Regions from separate parts of the Homo sapiens genome. Here region 1 is linked to region 2. Evidence: fine-mapped expression QTL. A gene starts in region 2. The other region holds a variant in brackets. All regions are shown on one strand. Distances are from middle to middle.

The links.
Region 1: its variant is fine-mapped to the expression of EML4 in whole blood (TOPMed, PIP 0.99).

What each region holds. Positions count from the first base shown.
Region 1 is chr2:42,275,571-42,288,614 of GRCh38, forward strand. EML4 (EMAP like 4) reads left to right here. Exons shown (of 23, transcript NM_019063.5): 7 at 5,280-5,403; 8 at 7,253-7,402; 9 at 9,064-9,133; 10 at 10,699-10,809; 11 at 12,657-12,752. Among named protein-coding and RNA genes, the nearest start is that of COX7A2L, 79 kb to the right of the region's middle. The variant A/T (reference allele first, on the strand shown) is at 7,942.
Region 2 is chr2:42,163,574-42,176,617 of GRCh38, forward strand. It overlaps EML4 (EMAP like 4), which reads left to right and starts at 5,780. Exons shown (of 23, transcript NM_019063.5): 1 at 5,780-6,063. The coding sequence starts at 6,039. EML4-AS1 (EML4 antisense RNA 1) reads right to left here and starts at 6,658. Exons shown (of 4, transcript NR_110584.1): 1 at 6,397-6,658. RefSeq lists enhancers at 5,362-5,501, 5,514-6,166 and silencers at 5,582-5,631, 5,732-5,791.

The DNA.
Region 1 (13,044 bases), 110 kb after region 2:
AATATCCTACAGAATTTCTTCTTTAATAATTAAACTACTCTATCACTGATCAGATTGACTTAAGAATATTTATGTTGTTTGAACATAAGTTAGTAAGTGCTAAAGCTGAGATTCAAACCAAGGTCTGTATCACAAAGCTTGTCTTCTCTTCACTCCCTCTCAGTCCCAGAAATTTTCACCATACCAAGGTTGGAGATAAAATGTTGAGTCTGGTTATATTTAAGTTAGCATCAGCTTCATTATTGAATACCTCATACTGTGTTTAACTATCATGAGGCAGGTAGTTTTCCTCACTTTCCTTTTCTGGACCACCAGACTTTGTATTGTTACTGATCTCGTATTCTGCTTTGATCAGTCCCATCGCCCATCCCTTATTGAGTTTCCTGGTGGTTTATAGTGAAGACAGGTAGAAAGTAGCATTGGGATAATACATACTGACTATAAGTTTTATGATTGTAAGATCAAGAAGCCCGAGAATCTCAGGAAAAAGTTTGCAGTGAGAATTTGACAATGACTGGGGAGAAAAGAGGCTCCTCTTCATCTATGTATTTTACCTAATACCCAAGGTAAAGAGTGTCTTCCTAAAAGAAGAGGTTGCAAACTGGTGTTGTGTGCAGGCCAAAGGTATGTTTTCATATGATGTTTCCCCTTTTTTGGTAGAGGAGTAAACATTTTAAAATTGGCAGGTTTCACAATAAATTATAGATTTTCTATTTCTTTTGAAAAATAAGAAGACCTAGTACCACTAGGTCCACATTCTTCATGGAGTGGCCTTGCTGCTCCCTCGCTGAGATGGGGTATGGGGTATTCGAATACAGTGTCCCCACCCTCAGTCATCATGTACTCTCCCACTTCTCTCATTTTCATTTCCTGCAAATGAATTTGTGTTGTTTTAAAGTGTACATAATAGACTCAGCAGAATTCTAGTTTGCTTACTTGCTGTTCTGCGGACAGTCACTTTAAAGCTTATGAAAAGATACTATAGTGTACTAAATCATAAACAATTGCTAAACAGTGTTTAGAGTGGTCATAAATCCCTTTCAAAGGCAAAAGGATAAATATGTCAATAACCTCATATTATGCTTTACAGTGTGATGTCTTATTTAATCACTTATAATTCCAAACAGTAGGTAGTATTATCACTTTATGTATTGAGAAAACGAAGCCAGTCTTGCAGTTAACAAAGCGTGAAGCTAAGATTCAAGTCGTAATCTTTTCCAAAGCTCATGCTGTTTTCACTATAATGTATTGCCAGAAATTGTTTGAAGTGCTTAGGTTATATACTTGATCTCCAACATATATGACCAATTTATAGATAGTGAAAGCATTGTCATCCTAATATGCATTGCCATTTTTATATCATATCAGAAAAGTTAGAAGCACTACATCATGCCTTTGCTTTTCTACTTGGTTTCTTAGGCTGCTTGACACTTGATACCCAATATGGTGTTCTGAGCTGTGCCTGTTCAAAAAGGAGAGCATTTTTTTTTCTTCCTTGATACTATCACTAACCCTCCCCCTTTGCTATACCTACACTCCTTTCTAAGTGGTGATAGAAGCATCTATTAAATGTCTTTTTTATTCAGAAAGTATTTATGATGTACACCTCTGATAAAAGATCCTGGAATAAATTCCAAAGGATGAGATATCTGCCTTCAGAAAGTTTGTAATCTTAAAAACTAGAGGAAAAATTATATAACAAGTTGACACTTAAAAGAGTAAACTATACAAATAAGGACAAGGAAATACAGATCAGGATGACTGCAGAAGTAGGGAATATTTACAGCTGGTCATTTTCTTATCAAATTTCAGCTATGCTAAAAATCATCAGGAAGCAGAGCCCACTCTTAGATTCAGAAGTAATGAAGACGTACATCATGTGATGTTGAAACCATAGTGTGGGAGGCCTTAGCCTGTTCTTAGATCAAACTCTGAGGCCAACTACACTGAGTAATAATAATAAAAATAACTTGAACTTCTCACCCATAACAAGCACAACCTTTTTTTTTTTTTTTTTGAGACGGAGTCTCACTCTGTCGCCAGGCTGGAGTGCAGTGGCGTGATCTCGGCTCACTGCAACCCCCGCCTCCCAGGTTCAAGCAATTCTCCTGCCTCAGCCTTCCGAGTAGCTGGGATTACAGACATGTACCACCACACCCAGCTAAATTTTGTATTTTTAGTAGAGACGGGGTTTCACCGTGTTGGCCAGGCTGGTCTCAAACTCCTGACCTCGTGATCTGTCTGCCTCGGCCTCCCAAAGTGCTGGGATTACAGGCATGAGCCACCATGCCCAGCCCAAGCAAACCTTTTAATCTGACTGAAGAAATACTTGCAGACATTCAAGAAGTAATTAATCTTTCCTTCCTCTTCATGGTTTGCATCATATAAACTACTGCATTATTACATACTCTTCTCCTTAGGTCGTTTAAGTCATTATTAGAGATCCTAAGGTTGTATCAGCCTCTGGTTGATGATCACATTTTCAGTCTGGTTCTAATGCTATTTTCATATCATGCCAGACAAGTTGGCAAGTGCTAGACATTTCCCATGTATTTGTACTAAGTCTTTGTCTCCCCTTTAGCTCCTTTTGTAACCATTTCACAATCACCATCAATATTATTAAACCTGTTGTATGTAGGTCACTGGGATGCTAGAGGCAGGGTTAAGTCGGGGTGGGGTTTTTTTGGTTTTTTGTTTTCAAAGGACTAAGAAACAATTGCGGCCGCATGCGGTGGCTCACACAGGTAATCCCAGCACTTTGGGAGGCTGAGGGGGCGCGGATCACTTGAAGTCGGAAGTTTGAGACCAATCTGGCCAACGTGGTGAAACCACATGTCTACTAAAAATGCAAAAATGAGCCAGTTGTGATGGTGCATGCCTGTAATCCCAGCTACTTGGGAGGCTGAGTGGGGAGAATCACTTAAACCCGGGTGGCGGAGGTTGCGGTGAGCCGAGCTCATGCGACTGCACTCCAGCCTGGGTGACAGAGCGGGACTCCATCTCAAAAAAAAAAAAAAAAAAAAAAAAAAAAAATCCATCAGTTGAGTGAAGTATTTTCTTTTGTAAAAGATGTGTAATATTGCCCAGGCATGGTGGTTCACGCCTGTAATCTCAGCACTTTGAGAAGCTGAGGTGGTTAGATCACCTGAGGTCATGAGTTCAAGATCAGCCTGACCAACATGGTGAAACCCCATCTCTACTAAAAATACAAAAAAATTAGCAAGGCATGGTGGCACATGCCTATAATCCCAGCTACTCGGGAGGCTGAGGCAGGAGAATCACTTGAACCCGGGAGGTGGAAGTTACAGTGAGCCAAGATGGCACCATTGCACTCTAGCCTGGGCAACAAGAGCGAAACTCTCTTGGAAAAAAAAAAAATGTATTGATTTGATTCTAGACTTGTGTTTTTTAACGTTTTAGTTTTAGACTGTCGCAGATCTTATAAACACCTATTGGTTTATGTAAATATAAGATACCTATGCTGCCAATAAGGAAACTGTTTCTTAGCACTGTCTTGAAAATCTCAGGGTATTATATTTGAAATCTTGAGGTCATGTTTTTGTTTTTTATTATTGCAAGATGTGTGTGTGTGTATATATATATGTGCATGCCACATTTTCCTTATTCAGTTGAGTTTAGGTTGTTTCCACATCTTGGCTATTGTGAATAGTGCTGCTGTGAACCTGAGAATACTGATATCTCCTCAAGATCCTAATTTCAGTTCTTCTAGAAAATACCCAGTAGTGGGATTGCAGCATCATATGGTAGTTGTGTTTTTAACTTTTTGAGGAACCTTCATCCTGCTTTCCATAGCGACTATACCATTTTGCATTCCTACCAGCAGTGTACAAGGGTCCCAGTTTCTCCACATCCTCATCAACACTTGCCGTCTTTTTTTTTTTTTTGAGACGCAGTCTTGCTCTGTCACCCAGGCTGGAGTGCAGTGGCGCGATCTTGGCTCACTGCAAGCTCCACCTCCCAGGTTCACGCCATTCTCCTGCCTCAGCCTCCCAAGTAGCTGGGACTACAGGTGCCCGCCATCATGCCTGGCTAATTTTTTTTATTTTTTATTTTTTCATATTTGTAGTAGAGACGGGGTTTCACCGTGTTAGCCACGATGGTCTCAATCTCCTGACCTCATGATCTGCCCATCTCAGCCTCCCAAAGTGCTGGAATTACAGGCGTGAGCCACCGCGCCCGGCTGTCTTTTTTTATTATTATTATTATTATTATTAATAGCCATCCGACAGGTATAAGGTAATATTTCATTGTGATTGTGATCTGCATTTCTCTGATGATTAGTGATGTTGAACAGTTTTTTGTATACCTGTTGGCCATTTTTATGTCTTTGGAGAGACTACAAAAGAAAAGATGTCCTTAGTCCATTTTAAAATCTGTTATTTAACTATTGAGTTCCTTATATATTTTTGAGATTAACCCTTTATTAGATATATGGCTTGCAAATATTTTCTCCCGTTCTGTAGGTGGCCTTTTTATTGTTGATTGTTTCCTGGCATAAGAAAAAGTTATGCCGTTTAACATCTGTAGGTTCATCCAGTAGCGTGGTAGACATGGTTGTTGTCTATCCAAATAATCTCACTCTTCTTTTCAAGTGTTAGAAAAACTGCTGTCACAAAATTTTCTTTAGCATTTTTCTACTCAGCCTTCCTGGACTTCTTGTAGAAATGTGTCAACTTAGATAAATTATATTTTAATTATCAAAAAATTATTCTCAGTTAAGGAAATGGCCATTGGTTTATTTTTCCCTACAATGTTTTAGACTAGGACTTTATAGTATCACTTTGTTTTCTGTATGCTGTGTAATGTAGTTGGCCCTCTGTATCCATGGGTTCTACATCCACAGATTCAGCCAACCATGGGTTGAAAATATTTGGGGAAAAAAATTGTCTGTTATACTGAATATATGCAGACTTTTGTCATTATTTTCTAAACAATACAACAACTATTTACATAGCATTCACATCATATTATGAGTAATCTAGAGATGATTCAAAATATACAGGTTATATGTGAATACTATGCCATTTTGTATCAGGAAATTGAGCATCCATGGATTTGGGTATCTGAGGAAGGTGTTCCTAAAATCAGTCCCCCGTGGATACAGGACAACTATATAACAAAAACAATTGTATATAATGAGACTAAAACTTTGAAGTAGTCATTTTTGTCTTGTTTTTATTGTATCACGTTAATAATCCACTTTTGTATGACTATACAGAAAATACGTATGACTTAACTTTTGTCTTGTGTTTCAACAGAAGGAGAATATATTAAAATGTTTATGCGCGGTCGGCCAATTACCATGTTCATTCCTTCCGATGTTGACAACTATGATGACATCAGAACGGAACTGCCTCCTGAGAAGCTCAAACTGGAGTGGGCGTATCCTTCTCTACCATGACAGCAAATTCATTTGCTTTGTCTCTAGTTAACAAATCAGTTAACGTATTCTCTGTCAAAATTGTCTTTATACAAAAAAAAAAAGTAACAGCTACTTAAAAAATTAAAAAGGAAACATCAGGCCAGGCGCGGTGGTTCACGCTGGTAATCCTAGCACTTTGGGAGGCCGAGGCAGGCGGATCACAAAGTCAGTAGTTCAAGACCAGCCTAGTCAACATTGTGAAACCCCATCTCTACTAAAGATACAAAAAATTAGCCAGGTGTGGTGGTGCATGCCTGTAATCCCAGCTACTCGGGAGGCTGAGGCAGGAGAATCACTTGAACCCGGGAGGCGGAGGTTGCAGTGAGCCAAGATCACGCCATTGGACTCCAGCCTGGGCGACCGGGGAAAACTCTGTCTCAAAAGAAAAAAAAAAAAAAAGGAGACATTATCTCTAATTCTTTGCTGTTAGCAATTTAAAGCCATCAAAGTTTATATCTTTGGAAAGGATAAACAATATTTTTTGAACATCATGGCAAGTACTTGCTAGAAAAGGCACTAGACTGGAACTGGAAGACTAGTGTTTGAGTTTTGGCCCTGCCACTTACTCTCCGTGAACCTTAACTTTCTTTACTTATAAAAGGGGTTAATTAATAACCCATACCTCACAGGGGCTGTTGTAGGAATTAAATAAGAAAACATCAGTTAAGCATTTTGTAACCTCAAATTAACAAGGCTGATTCTAATTCAGAATTAACTTTTCAGCCAGACTTTTTTTTAAATGACTGTTAAAGGAGAGCTTTCCTAATTTCACCTAGAAATTTTCACTTCTTTTAGAACCTCCAAGAAACTCAGTGAAACAGAAGGAGTTGGTAGTTTGAACTCTGTTGTCTGCCTCCATTCTCCTGCACTTCCTCCCACGTCCCTTGAATTATTCCCTTCTTAGGCAGATATCAGCTTGGACACACTCACCAATCCTTTCATTCTGTACAACATATTTTTAACAAACATTCTGCCTACCAAACTGTTCCTTGCTATTACTTATTTATCATTTAGGTCCAGCATAAATATCCCTTTTCCAGATAGGCCTTCTTTTGGTCCCTCCCTTCTCTCTCTTTTTCTCTCCATCTAAATTAGGTCCTCCATTTGGGCTTTCTCCTAGCAGTCTTTTTTTTACCCCCCCACGATTTGTAATTTTATATTTGGTGATTTTTTTTTTTCTTTGCCAGAGGATAAGCTCTAGAGACATAGGGCCTACATTTTTTTTGTTCAGAACTGAATGTTCACCATTATGCCTGATACACATTAGGATTTCAATACATATTTGTCTGGTAAATGAGGAAACTAAGATCTTAACATACTGAAAGAGTCAGGTTACGCTAGGGATAATGGCAGGATATGAGTTTTCCTTTTTTTTGGTGGAGGGGTGGGGGTGGGCGGCAACAGGGTCTCTGTGGCCCAGGCTGGAGTGCAGTGGCACGATCACTGCTCACTGTAGCCTTGACCTGACCTCCTGGGCTCAAGTGATTCTCCCACCTCAGACTCCCAAGTAGCTGGAACTACAGGCACAGGCCACCATGCCTGGCTAATTTTTTTTATTTTCTGTCGAGATGGGGTCTCACTATTGCCCGCACTACTCTCAAACTCCTGGACTGAAGTGATCCTCCCACCTTGGCCTCCTGAAGGGCTAGGATTACACGTGTGAGCACTCTGCCCGTCCAGGACATGAGTTTTCTAGTTCTAGTTCAGTCTTCTTCATTGTACCTTCCTAATTCCTTAAGTATCCATGAAAAATCTGTTAACAACTTGAAAACTGTGTTTATTTAAAACCTTGACTCTTTTTCTGTTAAGATATGGTTATCGAGGAAAGGACTGTAGAGCTAATGTTTACCTTCTTCCGACCGGGAAAATAGTTTATTTCATTGCATCAGTAGTAGTACTATTTAATTATGAGGAGAGAACTCAGCGACACTACCTGGGCCATACAGACTGTGTGAAATGGTTGGTATCATTTAACATTGGTTCATTTTTGTTCTTTCAGGCCCTCATTTTGTATTTTTTAAATTTGGGTTTTATTGAAAGTGATTTCTTGTGGAAAGCTCAGAATGTAAAAATATTATGGGTCATCTGTTGAATATATTTTAAAAAGAAAAAAAGGACTTTCGGCCTCCAAAATGGTGGTGTGGTATCAGCAGCAACAAAACACATCCTCCATAAATCATGATTGGAACCTCTTCTGCTTTCTCATGTCGTACAGTCCTTCTCTTCTCTGGTCTGTAGTGTGAAACATATATGGGACAGACTGGACATTTTCAGGTTTCTGAAAGTGATTATTGGTTACTCGATATTTATTGAGGATTTGTCCTATGTAGATAAATTTTATACTTGAAGCTTTATTCTTTTGGGAAGAAAGAAATCTAGCTGAATAAGGATCATAAGTATGCCGTAGGATGTCATACTACAAATGTGAGAACTCCTTTTAAATGCTTTTAAATTATTTTGTTACTTTTTAGTTAAATGCAATTATTTATTGTTTATTA[A/T]TATTTTCCAACTTTTATTTTTTATTTATTACCCTTTTCCCCACTTAGATCCAAGGACTGACTGGATGTTTTCCAACATTTAAAAGCTTTTATGTCTGTACTATGCTGGCACCTGTATCTTTATCCAGAAAAAAATTAATAGATGACTATTATAATATTATATAGATATTGAACTTTTGGAGTTGATTAAAATATTGCCTTTTACACTTGCAGAATAATGTATGTACAAAACTATTTACTGCAGCATTGTTTGTGATGAAGATTAGAAACAGCCTAAGTATTTTTCAGTTGGGGACTACTGGTGAGGTTGTAGTGTACCTATAGGTCACCATGTAGCTGTAAAGAATGAGGAAGCACTTTATGTATTAATATGTAAATATCCCTCTGATGTGTTCTTAAGTACAAATATTTAAGAGCAAGAGAATGTTCACAGTGTACAACCGTTGTTGAAAGAGTCTAGATATGGACATAAAGATGTCTTTTTCAGAAATTTGCTAGTCACTCATATACGTGCTGTGAGTAATTTAGGCACATATGCTACGCTACTTCCCATTTCTATTTAAAAATTCCTTGCCTCAGTTTGACTTACAAGAATTTAGCGCTAAGAACTAATTAAAAGATTGAAAGCACTATGTGTGAAGATGCTCATTGCTGTTTTCTTTTGTTGAAAAGTAAGAAATGGCCTAAAAGATGGAAGAGTTGTCAAGTCAGCATGTATGAGGATTATGTAGCAAAAGGAAAAAATGCTTGTACTTTAATAGATTAAAATTAAACAGCACAATATTGCATCTTCACTATAATAAAGTCGTGTGATTTGTATGCCATTGTGCGTGGACTAGAAAGGAACTTCAGCAAATGAAAACAGTTCGTTAGCATGCCACAGTTATAAATATTTTCTTTGAACTTAGTGTTTCATTAATCTGTGCAGCTTAACAAGTAAAAAGTACAGCTGAAAATTCAGAAATCTTCAGATATTTGATGATTGTTTGATTTGCTGAAGAAAACAGATAAACGTATGTTTTTTAACGATTAAAAACTGCTTATTTGAAAAATGTCAGTACAAAGGTATTCTGTTGTTTCATGTTTCCTGTGTTTAAAATCATTCTTAATACTGCTTTTTAGCCTTGCTATACATCCTGACAAAATTAGGATTGCAACTGGACAGATAGCTGGCGTGGATAAAGATGGAAGGGTGAGTGGCATAGTGTTATGCCTTCTGTACCTAGAGACATTGCTGTTAGAGTGGAATCTATTGTAATTTTAACCACAACTCATTTGTTTTATTCTTTTAAAATTTAAGTACTGAGGAATTTCTAGTATAAGCATGGAAAAAACATTAGGATATAAGAACACTTTAAAAGACAGAGTCATACTAATAAATTTTGTTTTTAAAAAATAAGTGTTCTCCCTTAAGAAGCTATTTACTGTAAAAATGGGAAAACTGATACGCTCGTTACATTTTCTTTATATAAAATAACATATAAAGTAACCAGTGTCTGCGGGAAGGTACTGCAGTTTCCCTTAGTTGATGAACCTGTTGATTCTTATTTACTTTCTTAATTAATTAATTAATTAATTATAGGGGTGGAATCTCACTTCGTTGCCCAGGCTGGGCTCAAACTCCTGGGCTCAAGTGATCCTCCAGCCTTGGCCTCTTGAGTGAGTAGCTGGACTACAGGTGTGTGCCACCATGCCCGGCTAACTCTTGATTTTATGTGTGACTAGAACTGATACAACTTAAAGAGTTACAGTTACTATTTAATATTATTCAGTTGGTTTGTATAACAAATACCTTATTTCTAAGGATCAACAGTGACTATTAATGGTGACTGAGTAACGTATGTATGACTATACTCATGACATTCTCAGGCTTCAGTTTCTTTAAAGAAAAGGAGTAGAAGGTTTCTACTGGATAACTTCTAAGACCCCTTCCAGTTTCAAATGCTATTTAAGGGCTGTTTAGCAGTTTATTGGACATTGATAAAATGTGTTATTTTCTCAGGAATGAAGATTAGTAATACTAAAAGCAAAAGTATCCGGAGCAGATTTGCCTGGATTAGAATCCTGACTCCACCTTTTTTTTTTCTTTTTTTCTTTTTTTTTTTGAGACGGAGTCTTGCTCTGTCTCCCAGGCTGGAGTGCAGTGGCACAATATTGGCTCACTGCAACCTGTGTCTCCCAGGTTCAAGCAATTCACCTGCCTCAGCCTCCTGAGTAGCTGTGACTACAGGCGCGTACTACCATGCCTGGCTAATTTTTTATATTTTTAATAGAGATGGGTTTTCACTCTTGTTAGCCAGGATGGTCTTAATCTCCTGACCTCATGATCCGCCCGCCTCGGCCTCCCAAAGTGCTAGGATTACCGGTGTGGGCCCCCGTGCCTGGCCGACTCAACCTTTTAATAGCGGTATCACTTTGGGCAAGTTATTTAAATCTCTGTATTCCAATTTCTTCATCTGTTAAATGATAATTATAATAGTGTACCTGTAGTGCATAGGATTAAATGAATTAATATGTGTAATACTTAGAATAGTATGTGTAACATAGTAAATACACAAGTTATTTGCTGCTATTTTCTTATTTTCACAGTATAAGAAAATACCTACTTAAGATTCATTTGGAGGCATGTCTAAATCTAGTAATTTATTAGAAGCTTATCCATCCCTATTACTTTTTTAAATGGCATTAGTTCTGTGTGCTATTGGTGTTTATTTGCATCCACCTGTCCAGTTGCTCTGCTGTCTTGTGTTTTTGCAGCCTCTACAACCCCACGTCAGAGTGTGGGATTCTGTTACTCTATCCACACTGCAGATTATTGGACTTGGCACTTTTGAGCGTGGAGTAGGATGCCTGGATTTTTCAAAAGCAGTAAGTAACAATTTTTAGAGAAGTAAGCAAGCTGAACAAAAAAGCAGGAAAGAAGTTAAGCTCAGTTTTGTGTTTATGTGGCCATGAAGTGATAATCCTGAGTTGAAAAATGAGATGCTAGCTATTGCTAACATATTAGCTATTGCTAAATGGCTAGCATTTTGACCTAAGTCCTAAAGTACTTTGGTTTAGTTAGGATGCAAGATATTTTACTTTAATTATTCTTGGAATTATGCTGCCTTGAGGTAGAGCTCCCATGTAGTAGCAGGAAGTGGTTAGAGGAATATATACAAAGCATAGTACAATTTCAGACAAGCAATAGGATGCATTTTTGCCTTACCTTGAATCATAGAAAAGATCTATTTTATTTTAAAAATTCACAGCAAACTTGGCCAGTTCTGTACAAATATTGGCTTTTCTTGATGTCATATTTGAGCAGCAGAAACAATCAGACCTTTGTATTTCCTGAAGTCCTGAATTATCTTGGTTTTGAATTGATGACAACATGGGTTTAAAATTTTCCCCAGCAGTCCTTTCTAAGTGTTGAGGCTTTATTCTAAGGGTAAAATAAGACAAGATCTTACTCATTTAAACATTCTGGTTTTTTCTTGAATTGTATGTAATTATGATTATAAAGTATACAGTCAACCTTCTATATTTTAGGATACATACTTTTTTAGTTTCAAAGATAAATACCCCTGTAGATTTTATGTGACCTCAGTTATATATTCATATTATCTCTTCAGTTCTTAGCCATTGGCAACTGTATTCTGGATTATGGGAGTTTTGTGGGACATGGAGGAAAGGACACTTTTAGAGCAGAAAGATAAATTTTAGTGAATTTAGGAACTTTGCTAGCTTGAAGGCACTGAATGTCAAGGGTCCAACAAGTCAGGAATTGGGAGAAGGACATTTAGAAAAGGAGATAAGAGGTCATAAAGGCAATACTTTTGCTACTTTATTTTCTCCCATAAATCTCTATAGCAGGAACTGTTGTCAGGTTGTTGATAACCATTGTTACGGTGTTAAGACCATCTTGAATTGCCTCATAACTCTATCTTTTCTAATTCAGATAATATTCCAATTTAGGCTAAGAGATAAAGAGGAGAAGAGAGTAAGCTCTGCCCTTCCTCAGTGCCTCTCACTCTTCACTACAATGTTTCTCTGTTCCATAACATTGTAAAGCATATTTCACAAATGATACTATTTTTAAAAAGCATTTAATATCATCTATAGGTATTTTTCTTAAACTGGAATACTTAAAATACGTGAATGAGAATGGTTTCAGAAAAACAGGAAATTTCATTATAAAAAAGGAATTTCATTATAATTTTACTTAGGTTGTTTATTCAAGTTAATGTAAGTCAGGTATCTCACAGAAAACTGAAATCAGCAAACTCTAAAATAGCCATGAATTTTAGCTTATTCTGTCAAACTGTCAAAATTTAGTGAGGAACAAAGTTATGAAATTGTGTACATTTCTTCTTACCTACCACAAGGAAAAATAGCTTAATACAGGCAGCAAGAAGGAAGCATAAGATGCAGAAGGGACTAGGATAGCCTCAAAATTAGTCACTATCTCTGAATAATAGGAGTGACTAGATGGCAAGTGGAAATAACCTGGAGGGATGAGGGGATTTAAATAGAATATTTTGTAAAAGAATCTTTATATTTTTGAGGAAAATACAATTGTAGTAAATAGTGTATTCATTATGTTTCAGAGAGCGATGAGTTTAAAGGATTTTGGGTTATCTTACTATTTGCAGTTTTAATAAGATGGTATTTCTTTCTTAGAATGTTAGCCCTATCAGTGAATTTTAAAATGCCTCTGATTGACTTTTCTTTAGGATTCAGGTGTTCATTTATGTATTATTGATGACTCCAATGAGCATATGCTTACTGTATGGGACTGGCAGAAGAAAGCAAAAGGAGCAGAAATAAAGGTAAATTTTTAAAAAACCGAGTATTGTGTTTTAGAGTACGTTACTTGTTTTGCAGGTATTTGGAACTATATTGGTATTAGAACTATCTATTCGTAAGTCGCAAAAGCAGATCTACTAGCCAAATTCAGCAAATTTAGTGATTTGTCATAATCGTTAAGATATTAACACTATAGTTATACAAGATAAAATAGTCAAGCAACTTGAAGCAATTTCAATATTTCAGACATTACTATAGTCCTGAAATGCCAGAGTAGATGGATGTGTGATCTCATAATTAAGACTGAACACACTT
Region 2 (13,044 bases):
CGCTCCTAAACCACAGTCCACATTTCAAACTGTGTGCTGGAGGCTTCCATCTGGACATCTGGTTATGACGCCAAGCACAATCTGTTTAAAACTGAACGCAGCACTTGTACCACTCAGAGTTCTCTATTGCAAACAACAGAAACCCACTCTGGCTGACTCAAGCAGAAAACAAATTCGCTGGGAGGATATCAGGTAGCTCCTTCAGTCGATGGGAAGATCAGAGGGCCAGGCACAGAAAATGGGCAGAAACCCAGGCAGTGTAGGGCACAGAGAGCATGGGCAAGTTTACTCTTTAGGACTCTAGTGAGGACGCTGCCCTGGAGTGGGCTGCCCTACTTCCTACCTCTGCACACCATCACTGTTGCTCTTCAATTTCTCAACTATCTTCAAGCATGGTCTCTGACTGCTAGTTTTTGTATCACTGCCCCCCAACTCATCCCTGCCATTAAAAGACCTGGGTTGAGGCATTCACTTGGCCTAGGTCATGTGCCTGGGCCCCAGCTGTCAAAGATGACCTCTGATTCCCTTCAGCTTCCCACAAAGGTTAATTCATCACTGTATTTTCTTTTCTCCAGTCACATCATTTCTTTAAGTTCCCATTTTAATATAATGCTGCCATTATTCTCTCCATCACTGGGAGCTGAACCTGGATAACCTGTTTTACTCCCTCCTCTTCCTTAGCTTCTGAGGCAATCAGTCCACCCAGCTCTGCGAGGGTTTTGTTTGTTGTTAATTCATGTTTTCCTTCACAAGATTTTTTTTTTCTTGGCGCTTTCTGCAGCTACTGCTTCACTGCAAGTCTCCTAATTGGATTCCCCACTTCCAGTGCCTCTTCCAATGTGTCCACCCGGTTTAATCTTCCTAAAGCAATGCTTTGATCATATCACTTTGCTGCTAAAACTGCATTGTTGATAGGCGTCTCAGTCTGGTGTTCAAGGATCTCCACAACAGAATCCCATTGAGCCCAAAAGGCAAACTGGTGCAGCGAAGAGTTTGATTTTCAGATGTAGATGGATATGGGTTCAAAACTTGATTTTCCCATTTTATAGTTTTATACTCTTGAGGCTCATTTTCCCTGTCTGAAAAATGGGGATAATGAAACCTACCACTTAAGGACCTTCATAAGTCAGAACTTTGAAAGTTGAAACGGTATTATATGTTGTATTTAGGTTGCAACATCAACCCACAGATGCTTATAATAGGCAATATTCAATTTCAGACCTGTCTGGTTCAAAACCTTAAGTAAGGCTGTCATCAGTGTGGTTTAACGCAGGCAGGTTAGGATCAGCATGCTACATGTTTTTGGGGCTAAGTGGCAATCTAACCACCAATTATGGCATTATTACTAATTTCAAACTGCTGACTTACAAATGACCTTTTGGAAATATTTTATTTGCAAGTAGAGAACTTCCTGTGTTATTAATTTTGAGAATTGAATTTCCTTGATTGGCTGCTTTCCACTCTAATATTTCTATTTAAAAGTATTTCCCTGCAGAATATCAATTTTGTAAGGGATTGTTATGAACTCTTCATGGAGAAAAATTTTACATTTATGATGGACACATGAAAATTATTAGCTATTATCTCTAAGGCTTGCGCAACATCCAGTAAATGTAGTAAAGCTATAACACATAAAAAGAAACTTTAAAGTTTGTTCCACAATCTCAACAAGTTCAAATCTCATTTCATGGCATAAATTCTGAATTAGCATTGGGAAAACTTAGCTCTGCAGGCAAGGCTAGTTGTCTTCTTTCTGTAGGTCATGGATGGCACCATGAGAAATGCCAAAATTAACCTCAATAGGCATTCGTTCACTCACTCATGCATCTATGCAGCAGGTCCTCCAAGTGAGGTATGGCTTGTGATCCCCACAGGATAGATTTCAGTCTCATAAGTTCTCACCAAGAATTTACAGCACTACTAATTGCTTGATTCTTTCCTGAAGTCAGCAAGTCTGGAAAGTCTTACGAGAGAGATAACCATCATGCCAAGATTGGTAAAACAGTTATTAAATAAGTATGATATTTTAAACCAGTCTCTACAGACACAGTTTATGAGTGTCTAAATATGCAGTGAAATATATTTTTTGTTTTTGCATTTTAATGTTTTCAAAAAATGAATACTTCTATGATTAAAATAAAATAAAAGTGAAATCCCCCATATCTCTCCTCTACCCTTTCCTTCTTCCACTTAATTTCATTTCTCAGAGGCAGCTACTTTTGACACTTTGGGGTATCTCCTCTCAAACTCCTTTTATTTCTCTTGCAATAATTTTGAAGTTCTCCCTAGGCATTCTTTATGGTTAGAAGCTAGAATAACATTGCCATTTAGCTTCTTATAGATTTTGGAATTCTTTTACACACTGCTTACATTAAACATATTATAAAAATGAAGAATCCCTTTTTTCCCCCACTCAGGTATTAACTCTGATTTTTTTCTATCAAATTTGTGCTTACATGGACTACAGGTTTATACAATCTATATAGTTCCATGACTATAGGGTTTCATTTTTTAAATAACATTCAAATAATGAAATAAAAGGAACTGAAGACACAGCATACTTAAAAAAAACCCTTAATTTTCCTTGGCATTTATTTTAAAATGTCTGCGGGAGAGAAAAGCAAGCAGACAAAAACAGTTTATAGTTACTTTTCAAGATCATCTAGCTAGTGAGAGTAAAACAAAGAAATTGAATAGGAATCTTATTTTTCTTCAAACGTTAGGTCAAGACTTTGACAATGTATCTTCACAAGTATTCTGAAACTCCTCCCACAACATACTAACCTTGACATAGAGGGGAAGGTAAGTATGCAGAGTCAAGATTCGATGTATAAAGAGAATGTTCTGGCCAGGCATGGTGGCTGAAGCCTGTAATCCCAGCACTTCAGGAGGCCAAGGCTAGGCGAATCACTTGAGGTGAGGAGTTCGAGACCAGCCTGGGCAACATGGCCAAACCCTGTCTCTACTAAAAATACAAAAATTAGCTGGGCATGGTGGTGCACAACTGTAATCCCAGCTACTTGGGAGGCTGAGGCATGCTAATTGCTTGAACCCGGGGAAGCGGAGGTTGCCGTGAGCTGAGATCGTGCCACTGCACTCCAGCCTGGGCAACAGAGTGAGACCCTGTTTCAAAAACCAAAACCATAAAGGGAATGTTCTAAGTTTTCATTATTTGATACAGCTATATTTAGCCTTTTCCAATAACTGGGATCCTGAAAAACGGCACATATTTTGCATTTGCCTGAATTAAGTTATACTTAAGGAGCTCAAAGGGGCAATGGAACTCCACATTGAAAATAATCTAAAGATAAATCCTTTGTTAAGGTGAATAACCAAAATAACCCTCCAGTAATTCGTAACTGTTTAGAACCTTAGTATTTGTGTGTGTGTTTGATAATGTTCAGCTATGGTTTCACTTTTGAAAGATGTATGTTAAATTTTATTTTATCATAGTAGTATTAGAGGCTTAGATTGCAAGATGTACTTTGATAAATATAAAACAAAAATTCTGGCTGCTTTAAAACACTCAGGCACTGGTTGTTGAAACAATGTATTCAGATTGACTAGTTTTCAGAATTCTTCTATGTTTGTTCATTATTCAATAAATATTTATCAAAAAGCTGTTCTGTAATATGCACTAAGTATATAATAGAGAGCAAAAACAGGTACAAAATAAGAGCAGCTAATACCTACTGAGCACTTATAACATATTGTGCCCTGTTTTAAGTGCTTTACATATATTACCTCATAGCATCCTCTCAAAAACTCTAAGAAGTAGAAGTGTTATCATCTCCATTTTGCAGTCAATAAAATGGAGGCACAGAGAGGTTAGGTAATTTGTCCAGTGTTTCATAGCTAGTACATGATGAGTTGGGATGTGAATCTGGGCAGCATGATTCCAGAGTCTGCACTCTTAACTGCTGGGATGTACTAACTCTCCTACATTTTAACAGCTTTCCTTGTAGTATACAGTATAATGAATGAGATGCTTATTGAATAAATCATTCAAGCAAATGAAAAATTTTAACTCTGATGAATGCCACGAAGGGGAGTGTGGCAGAAACCAGAGAGCTGTTACCAAAATATGTCTCTTTTCCTTCTGGATACACAGACTACATTCCTAGCCTCCCTTGCAGTCATGTGACCAAGTTCTGGCCAGTGGAATGTGGACAAAAGGGAGGTACACACTTCCAGGTCTGGACCATAAAACATATGTATACCAATATGCCAAGTTCTTATTCTTTTAATCGACCTAAGGCAGAGAGTGTGGCCTGAAGACACAAAGGAACAGCTGTCAGAATTGAGAACTTCTCAAACATTTACTTAGGCTTAATAGAAACTTATGCATATGAAAATGCCCATAGCAGAAGGAACATTGGGTAAATCATTTAAGTTTGAAGAGAAGGAAATTTTAGACACCGTTTAGTCTGTAACCTGAATTTATCTTGGCTGCGTTATGGCCAGTCTCCATATAGTATGGTATTCAGAAACAGGTCTTATATCCAAATAAGAAATGCAAAGTAATTTACATTTTTAGGGAAGATTTTTAAAGAGGCAACAAAGGGAGACGTATACCCCAAGAAGGTTTAACAATCCTTTCAATCATTTAATTCCTCTAAGTCTCTCTCATCATTACATATTTCTTGTCTCCCTTCTTGTTTGTCCCTCTCTCCTGCAACTCTGTGTAGTAGGACTCTGTTTTCCCCTAACTCAGCTTTTTATTATGTATTTATCAATTTATTATGTATAGATCAATTCAGTTCTTCAGTACCTTACAGCTCTTCTCTCTCTTACTCTAATCTGCACAACTGAGCCCCAGGAGGGACTTGACAAACCATGAGAAAGTCTTTAGAAGTATGGGAAATCGTGTTGGGGAAGGGAGGAAGAATATGAACGCTATGTATATTTACATGTTTTGGTTACATGTCCAGACAACCAATTTGCAAATGAATAAAGTGACGCCTAAATAAATTAGGTGATTTGACACTCTTGAGTCATACGGAGTTGGGCCTAGAACTCAGTGTTACTTCATTTGAAATAACCCTTATTATGGTTCCCTAGCAGGCCATCCTATAGCCTGCCATATATGGTCGTTTTGCACCCCTAGACGACAGAACGCTAGGGAGAGTAAGGAAGGCTGAGTTTTTGCTTCTACTAGGTTCGATGACCTTGGGCAGGTTGTCCTCTCTAAGGCTCTGTGTTTTTCTTCATAAGAAGGGTTAGACAAGATGAACTTTTGGGTCATGTCCAGCACTAAAATTCCTTGCTTCTGATCTGTCCCGGGCCCTGCGGCTGTGGCAGTGGTGGTATCGAGCTAGTCAAGAAGCTTCGCCCCTATTTGTCCCCCACCCTATTGGGGGAGAGGGAGAACCTCTCCCTCTTGGTTGCTTCTTTAGTGTCCTTGTAGGACCCACGTGGTGGTCATCTCCCGTCACGGGGGTCCAGTCTTGGCTCTGCGGGCTTCCCAGGGGCCACATAGGGAGAGGATCCTTCATGCATCAGAGTATCGCAGGCCAGAGTCTATGCCTTATCCCCACCTGTTTGGAACCAGCTTCCAAACCGTGGTCCCCAGCCTTCAGCAGGCCTACCGCGCAGGCGCAACCACCAGCCTGGCGCGAGGCGGACAAACGCCGAGGCCGAGGCAAGGTGAGAGGGCGGGGCTGGCAAGACCCCGCCTCCGTGGCGTCACGTGGGAGGCGGAGTCGGAAGTGTGACGGCGTGCGCGGGGCGGGGCTACTGCTGCGCGCGGGCGCGGGGGCGGGGCGGGGCGCGGCGCGGCGCGGCGCTCGCGGCTGCTGCCTGGGAGGGAGGCCGGGCAGGCGGCTGAGCGGCGCGGCTCTCAACGTGACGGGGAAGTGGTTCGGGCGGCCGCGGCTTACTACCCCAGGGCGAACGGACGGACGACGGAGGCGGGAGCCGGTAGCCGAGCCGGGCGACCTAGAGAACGAGCGGGTCAGGCTCAGCGTCGGCCACTCTGTCGGTCCGCTGAATGAAGTGCCCGCCCCTCTAAGCCCGGAGCCCGGCGCTTTCCCCGCAAGATGGACGGTTTCGCCGGCAGTCTCGGTGAGTACGGCTGGGGAGTCCTGCGTCTTCTGCGAAGGGTAGGAACTTTTTTCCTTCCGCACACAGCCCAGGCCCTGCCCTCCCGCCTGCCCCTCGGGGTGGCAGCGGCTCCACTGCACATGTTCCCTTCGAGGCTGCCGCCCCTCCGCGGACTCCGGTGGACTGAGGGCCCCTCCCCCATGTCCAACTCTCCTCTGTGTCAGACCCTCCTTTCCTCCCGGAGCCCCTTTCAGTGCGGGGCCCTCGTTCCCCCAAAGTGGGAACCCCTTCCTTCTCAGGCCCCCCGATAGCTGGCACACCCCTCCCCGTACACTCACGGCTCCCTCCACTTACCCCCCTTCAGAGTTGGGACATTTCTTCAAATCCAGGCTCCTCTTCAGGGTACAACCTTCCACCACCTTTCCACATACACGCCTCTCTTTCAGGGTGGGGATCGCCTTCACCCGAACAGAGGCTCCTTTTTAGGGGAGGGACCCTCATTCCCTCTTCAGGAAGGGGGCATCCCCCGCCCCCAAGTCTTCACTTTAGATTTGAAGGCGACTTTCCAGTATCCTTCAGAGTAGTAGGCAACTTCCTTTTCAATCCCTCCACTTCTCTGAGCATTTTGCAGTGGTGGAGAGACCTAGAAGCATCGGAGCATCATTTGCTTAATGCAGGAAAGGAAGAGGTGCATCTGTGTTGGGGGACCCTCTTTAAGAGTGAAAGCAGAAGTGTTTTCTGGTTCTGCATACATGCTGGGGAGAAGTGATTCTGCCCAATGAATCAATAGGAAAGGGGGCCTCTATCAGGGAAGGAAAGGATTCTCCATTTTTGGAAGATGTTGTCTTTGTGGAATGGAGAAAGGGAAGAGGTTATTAAATAGGCTGAAGTGCCTTTTCAGTGTTCCTTTCACCAGATGAAGGTAATCTTCTGGCTAGGAAAATCAAAACTCCAGGCTAGTATTCGCTGCCCTAGAAGCTGAATCTGGAATTACTATTCTTCGAGGCCATTGAAATCTAGTAAAAGATTAAGTTCAACTGTTAGAATGGTGAGAGAAACAGTTTCAGCTTTGGCTGATAACGCAGTTGTGTGATACCTACTGCTGGAACTGTATTTTGAGTTTTTTATGTGCAGGTAGCTTGTATTCAGACGCCTTTCTTTTACATTTCTTGATAATAAGTCTCTACTTGGTTAATGTTCACTGATCAGTGAGCAGTCTGGCCATAGGCCGTACTATATCCAGATAATATCGAGATGAGATGGATTTTTAAAATCTAAAGTAAAAAAGTAAGTCAAAGAGCAATGGGCCTATTATAGATATTAAATAGTAAAACCTATAATTTTGGCCTTCCCTTTTTCTTGGGCAGAAAAAATTGTCGTTATATTGCTTTCAGAGTGGAAATCCTAAAATAGGAGGCAACTGAGTGTTGTGTTACTCTTTCCTCCTCAAAGGCACCTGTTGTCCATTATCTAACCTTTGATGTCTTGTAATTCCTTACTTAGGTTGGGCTCTTTTTAGAGAGACATCCATTTTTCCCTGGTTCTTTTTTAGCTCCATGCGTTGGTTTATTCACAGTAAGTGTTGGACCGAAAAACTTGTCCTATATGTCCGCTGAAGGGCTGATCTTATACTAAAGTAAAAATTGAGTGTCTTCTTAGGGGATGTTGTGGAGAGCTGTGCTATCTTTATACTGTATTGGGTCCTCATCCTGTAGGAGTGGTGAGATCACTTTAACTTCTTTCGTGTTGGCTCTAAAGATTTCTGGAGGGCTTGTTAAAGCTTCATCTTCTGTAAGTGTTTAGGAGGAGTCTTTCTCACCAGTTGGGGCACTTAATGTTTATTTTCAAACATTGATTATGCTTTGTAATAGCTTTCTTCTTTCTTAACCAGTTTATGAGGCAAGTGATACAAAAGACCGAGAGATGAAGATGAATTGCAGTTGGGGCTCACACTTTTCATAAAGAGCGTCATTGTTGACCCTAATGTTGGATTTAAAAAATTCATTTGATGCCATGCTTTGGGTGGTATGTGATGAGACTTTCCTTTAGATATGGTGTTAATCAGGAGCAGAGGAGATATGCCTATCAGAGGAACCTGCATCTGCAGAGAGGGAAGGAAATGGTTCCTGGCAGTATTTCTGGAGCTGTTCTTGATGAAGATACTTCTCAGTGGGAGCTCTGTGCTTTCTCTTTCTGTCCCCCTTGCAAGAGTAAAACTAGGCCCCATCTTAATTGAAACCTTAAAGGGGTGGGGGAGGAGTAGTGCTGGTATATTTTACTGGTAGTCTTTAAGCGGAGCTTTGCTCAGCTCTTGCCAAATTGCTTGTTTCTGTTCTCTGCAGTTAATTAGCCTAGAGCTTAGAGTTACATTGATCTTTATTTTACCATCAGGAGAGCCATGAATATAAAGGCAAGCACTTCTACTCTAGTAGGTGTTTAAAAACTTTTTTTTTTTTTAAACAAGAAGTCAAAACGTGAAGTTCTTCTGGGGTTACAACTATTGAAAGCATTTATTCTCAAGGAAGTATGTGTGTATTTCCTTTTACATATTAGATAGATTCTTGAAAAATGGTGAAAAAACTACATTTTTATAAGCAGAAAAATTGAGTACTTTATAAACAGAATAATTTTAGAGAAGAGATTATTTCAGAGAATCCTATGGTGACTCATTTTGTGAAGTGAAAACTTAAAATTCAAACTGTACCCTTGATTGTTGCATGTTTAGATAAGAAATCCACTGTGTTATGTGCATTTTATAAGATGTCTAATGGCAATTAAGACTAGGTAGTGGTTTTTTAAATCATAGGAATGATAAGTGATTGGCCATTTTATAAATGCCACATTGAAGTTACATGGTACTGATTATGTTATCTTTGTTTTACATAAAAAACAAGTGAAGAATTCTTTTAATCTCCGCAGCTGATGAATTTCAGGCAACTTGGCTGGCAGGTGCTTGTACTCTGGAATTTCCCTTAGGTATTATTAATATATCTTTTAATCCACAAATTATGGTAACTTAAGGCAGCACTTTAGAAACCTTTTTTTTTTTAAACTTAGGAGAGAAAAGTACTCAATTACCTTGATGTGTTGCCTCTAAATCACTACATATAGATACCCATGTGCAAAATGTATATACTGTATGTATATTAAATCTCAGGTCTATGTGCAAAAGTGGGAAGCTATTCATACAGCTTTTACCGATTTTTTATAAGGCAGGGATTGGGTGCATTTCATGCTTAATCTTTTTAGAATCTCTTTCATAATAGAGGTTTAATTTTAAGACTTTTATCTTGGAATTAACCTAGAGATTAGTCTGTTTTCACTTGAAAGAAACCTTATACCTAACCAGTCAGCTTTAAATTTTTCTGCCTCAAAAGTTAAACAACAAAACTTAAAATCTTCTTCCCCCTAAGAAAAATCATAGTGAATGAAATTGTTGGATTAGGATCTATAAGAAACAACATTCTGGGTACAGGTTGTAAATGTGAACAAGTATAGCAGTATGCTTCAACTTATGGACTATTCAGAAATTAGTCTTTTTAACATCACATTGTTAGAACTGTGATTTCTCATCACAGATAATAGTCTTGCTTTCTTAAAGGAACAATGCTGTATATGATTTTCACATATTAATCTAAAGCATTCCTTATTTACATGAAAATGTTTTTCATGTAATATTTGGAGAGGTTTTTTTTTTAAACTTTTTTTATTGGTTGCCTCTTGAAGAGTTCAAGATAGACTCAAGTTGTGTAACCAGACATGAGTAGTAACTCTTAAATGGTTAGTAGAGCATCTTCAACATGAGTTAGCTAGAGTGTTTTTCAACATATGTATGGATTAACATCGAACATGGGCTAGCACTATGCTTGGTGGTTCTTATGGGAAAGACAAGTAAAAGACATGCTTTTTGCCCTTTAGGAGCTTACTGCCTGGTTTTTAAATAAGTACCATGACTAGGTGCAGTGGCTCACGCCTGTAGTCCCAGCACTTTGGGAGGCTGAGGTGGAAGGATCGATTGAGCCCAGTAGTTTGAGACCAGCCTGGGCAACATAGCAAGACCCTGTCTCTGCAAAAAAAACAAAAATAGGCATAGTGGCATGTGCCTGTAACCCCAGCTACTTGGGAGGCTGAGGCAGGAGGATCACTTGAGCACAGGAGTTGAAGGTTGCAGTGAGCTATGATTGTACCACTGCACTCCACTGGGCCACAGAGCAAACCTCTGCCTCTAAAAAATAAATAAATAAATAAAGTATGTACTGTATGTAGAGATGTTTATTATTAAGCCTAAGTACCAGAAATGGGGATGAAGGGAGGAAGCACCATTTAGAATGCTGTGCTATGTTTCAAGCAAGTAACTTCTGAGAGAACATTTGTTGATTGCTAGATTTATCTCTGCAGAGCTTGGCTTTTTAAAACAATGAAATAATTTAGCAGTTTAAATTCTAGGGAGTCTTTTTCTGTCTTATGTGTAAGTTGGAATAACATGTAGCAAAATACTGTATTTTGTATGTGGGAGTCCATTTCTGTAACATGTAAAACTTCAATATTCATAAGAAATTTTAGAAAAATATTTTGATTTTTAAAATAGATTCTAATACTTGTAAAAAGTTTAGGGAAAGAATCTACTTCATCTAGTATTACCTCAGTGTGGAAGATTCCCAAATCTATAGTATATTTCTTTGTGTGTGTGTGTCTGACGGAGTCTTGCTCTGTCTCCCAGGCTGGAGTACAATGGCACGATCTCAGCTCACTGCAACCTCTGCCTCCTGGGTTCAAGCGATTCTCCTGCCTCAGCCTCCTGAGTAGCTGGGATTACAGTTGTGTACCACCACACCTGGCTAATTTTTGTATTTTTAGTAGAGACAGGTTTTCACTATGTTGGCCAGGCTGGTCTCAAACCCCTGACCTCGGGTGATGGCCACGCACCTTGGCCTCCCAAAGTTCTGGGATTACAGGTGTGAGCCACTGTGCCTGACCCTGTAGTATATTTGTATGTCGGTATATGATCTCTTGTCCTTTAGCTGTCTTAGGCTTTTATAATACCTTAATTTTGCATGCTGTATATGATTTTTAAATATTATTTTAAAGCATTCCTTATTTACAGTTTACAAAGAGCTTTTATCTCATTTAATTTGCATACTAACCTTGGGAGATAAATTATTATACTTTTATAGGTGAAAAAGGTCTAGAAAGTGGTTTTTTTTTGTTTGTTTGTTTTTTGAGACAGAGTCTTGCTCTGTTGCCCAGGCTGGAGTGCAATGGCGCGATCTCGGCTCACTGCAGCCTCCGCCTCCCGGGTTTAGGCAGTTATCTGCCTCAGCCTCCCTAGTAGCTGGGATTACAGGTGCCCGCCAGCATGTCTGGCTAATTTTTGTATTTTTAGTAGAGACGGGGTTTCACCATCTTGGCCAGGCTGGTCTTGAACTCCTGACCTTGTGTGATCCACCCACCTTGGCCTCCCTTACAGGTGTGAGCCACCGTGCCTGGCCGTGTTTTTGTTTGTTTGTTTGTTTTTGAGACGGAGTCTTGCTCTATTGCCCAGGCTGGAGTGCAGTGGCACCATGTTGGCTCACTGCAGCCTCTGCCTCCCGTGTTCAAGCTATTCTCCTGCCTCAAGCCTCCCGAGTAGCTGGGACTACAGGCACTCACCACCACACCTGGCTAATTTTTTGTATTTTTAGTAGAGATGGGGTTTCACTGTGTTAGCCAGGATGGTTGTGATCGCCTGACCTTGTTATTCGCCTGCCTCGGCCTTCCAAAGTGCTGGCATTACAGACGTGAGCCACCGCACCTGGCCAAGAGTGTGTTATTTTTTTAAAAGGTTAAGTCCAGGTTTTTTCTTTTTTTGTATGGTTGGGAGTGTTTGTATCTATATTATTTTTATTTTATTTTATTTTGTTTTTTTGAGACAGAGTTTCTGTCGCCCAGGCTGGAGTACAGTGGCACAGTCTTGGCTCACTGCAACTTCTGCCTCCTGGATTCAAGCGATTCTTGTGCCTCAGCCTCCCGAGTAGCTGAGATGACAGGTGTGCACCACCGCACCCAGCTAATTTTTGTATTTTTAATAGAGAAGAGGTTTTGCCATATTGGCCAAGCTGGTCTTGAACTGCTGTCCTCAAGTGATCCATCCACCTCAGCCTCCCAAAGTGCTGGGATTAGAGGTGTGAGTCACCATGCCCAGCATCATATTATTTTTAAATAAAACACCATAGAAAGGAAAGAAGAATAGAAAAATAAATTATCTTTAGCCCATTTGTATGCAGCTGATGTTAACATGTTAATGTACTTGTTCTTAGTCTTTTCCTATGCTTAGTTTTTTAATAGTTAAAATCATACTGCAGACATAATTTTGCATTCTGTTTTTTTCGTTGGATCCTAACCTTTTTTTTTTTTTCCCACTTGAACTCAGATTTTTCTGATGGAGTCCAGTGGTCTTTTCTCTACTCCAATACTGACTCTTTATAACCCTCAGGTACATACCTGAATCTGAACTTCTCTCCTGAATCAGCTTCTTTTCCTTATTTCCCACTGACTGTATCACCCAGTTTGAAATTTCAGAATCATGTTTTGATTCTTTGCCATTTTTGCCTAGGGCATTAGAATCTCTTCTAAGACTTGTCAATTCTTGTCACCTTTTCTCATCCCTTTTCTTTTCCACCGCTATAGTTCAGGTACTTATTATTCGATGCGTGGATTATTGCATGGCGTCGAGAATCTCCACCTGTCCAGTTTATTTTGTACAGGGCCCTCAGATTTATCTTCCTAAAGCCATGCTTTGATTGTGCTATTCACCCTCTCAGATTGCTTCATTGCTTTAATGACTACATTCAAACATCTTAGCCTCTTAACATCTTCTCAAGTCCTCTGTCATCTCTTTCTACTGTCTTACCATGTTCTGACCAAAATGACCTATTTCTTATTCCTCACATTTTCATCTTTTCATCCTGATGACTATTCTCAGTACCCTTCAAGGCTCAACTCAAATATTATTTCCTTTCTAAA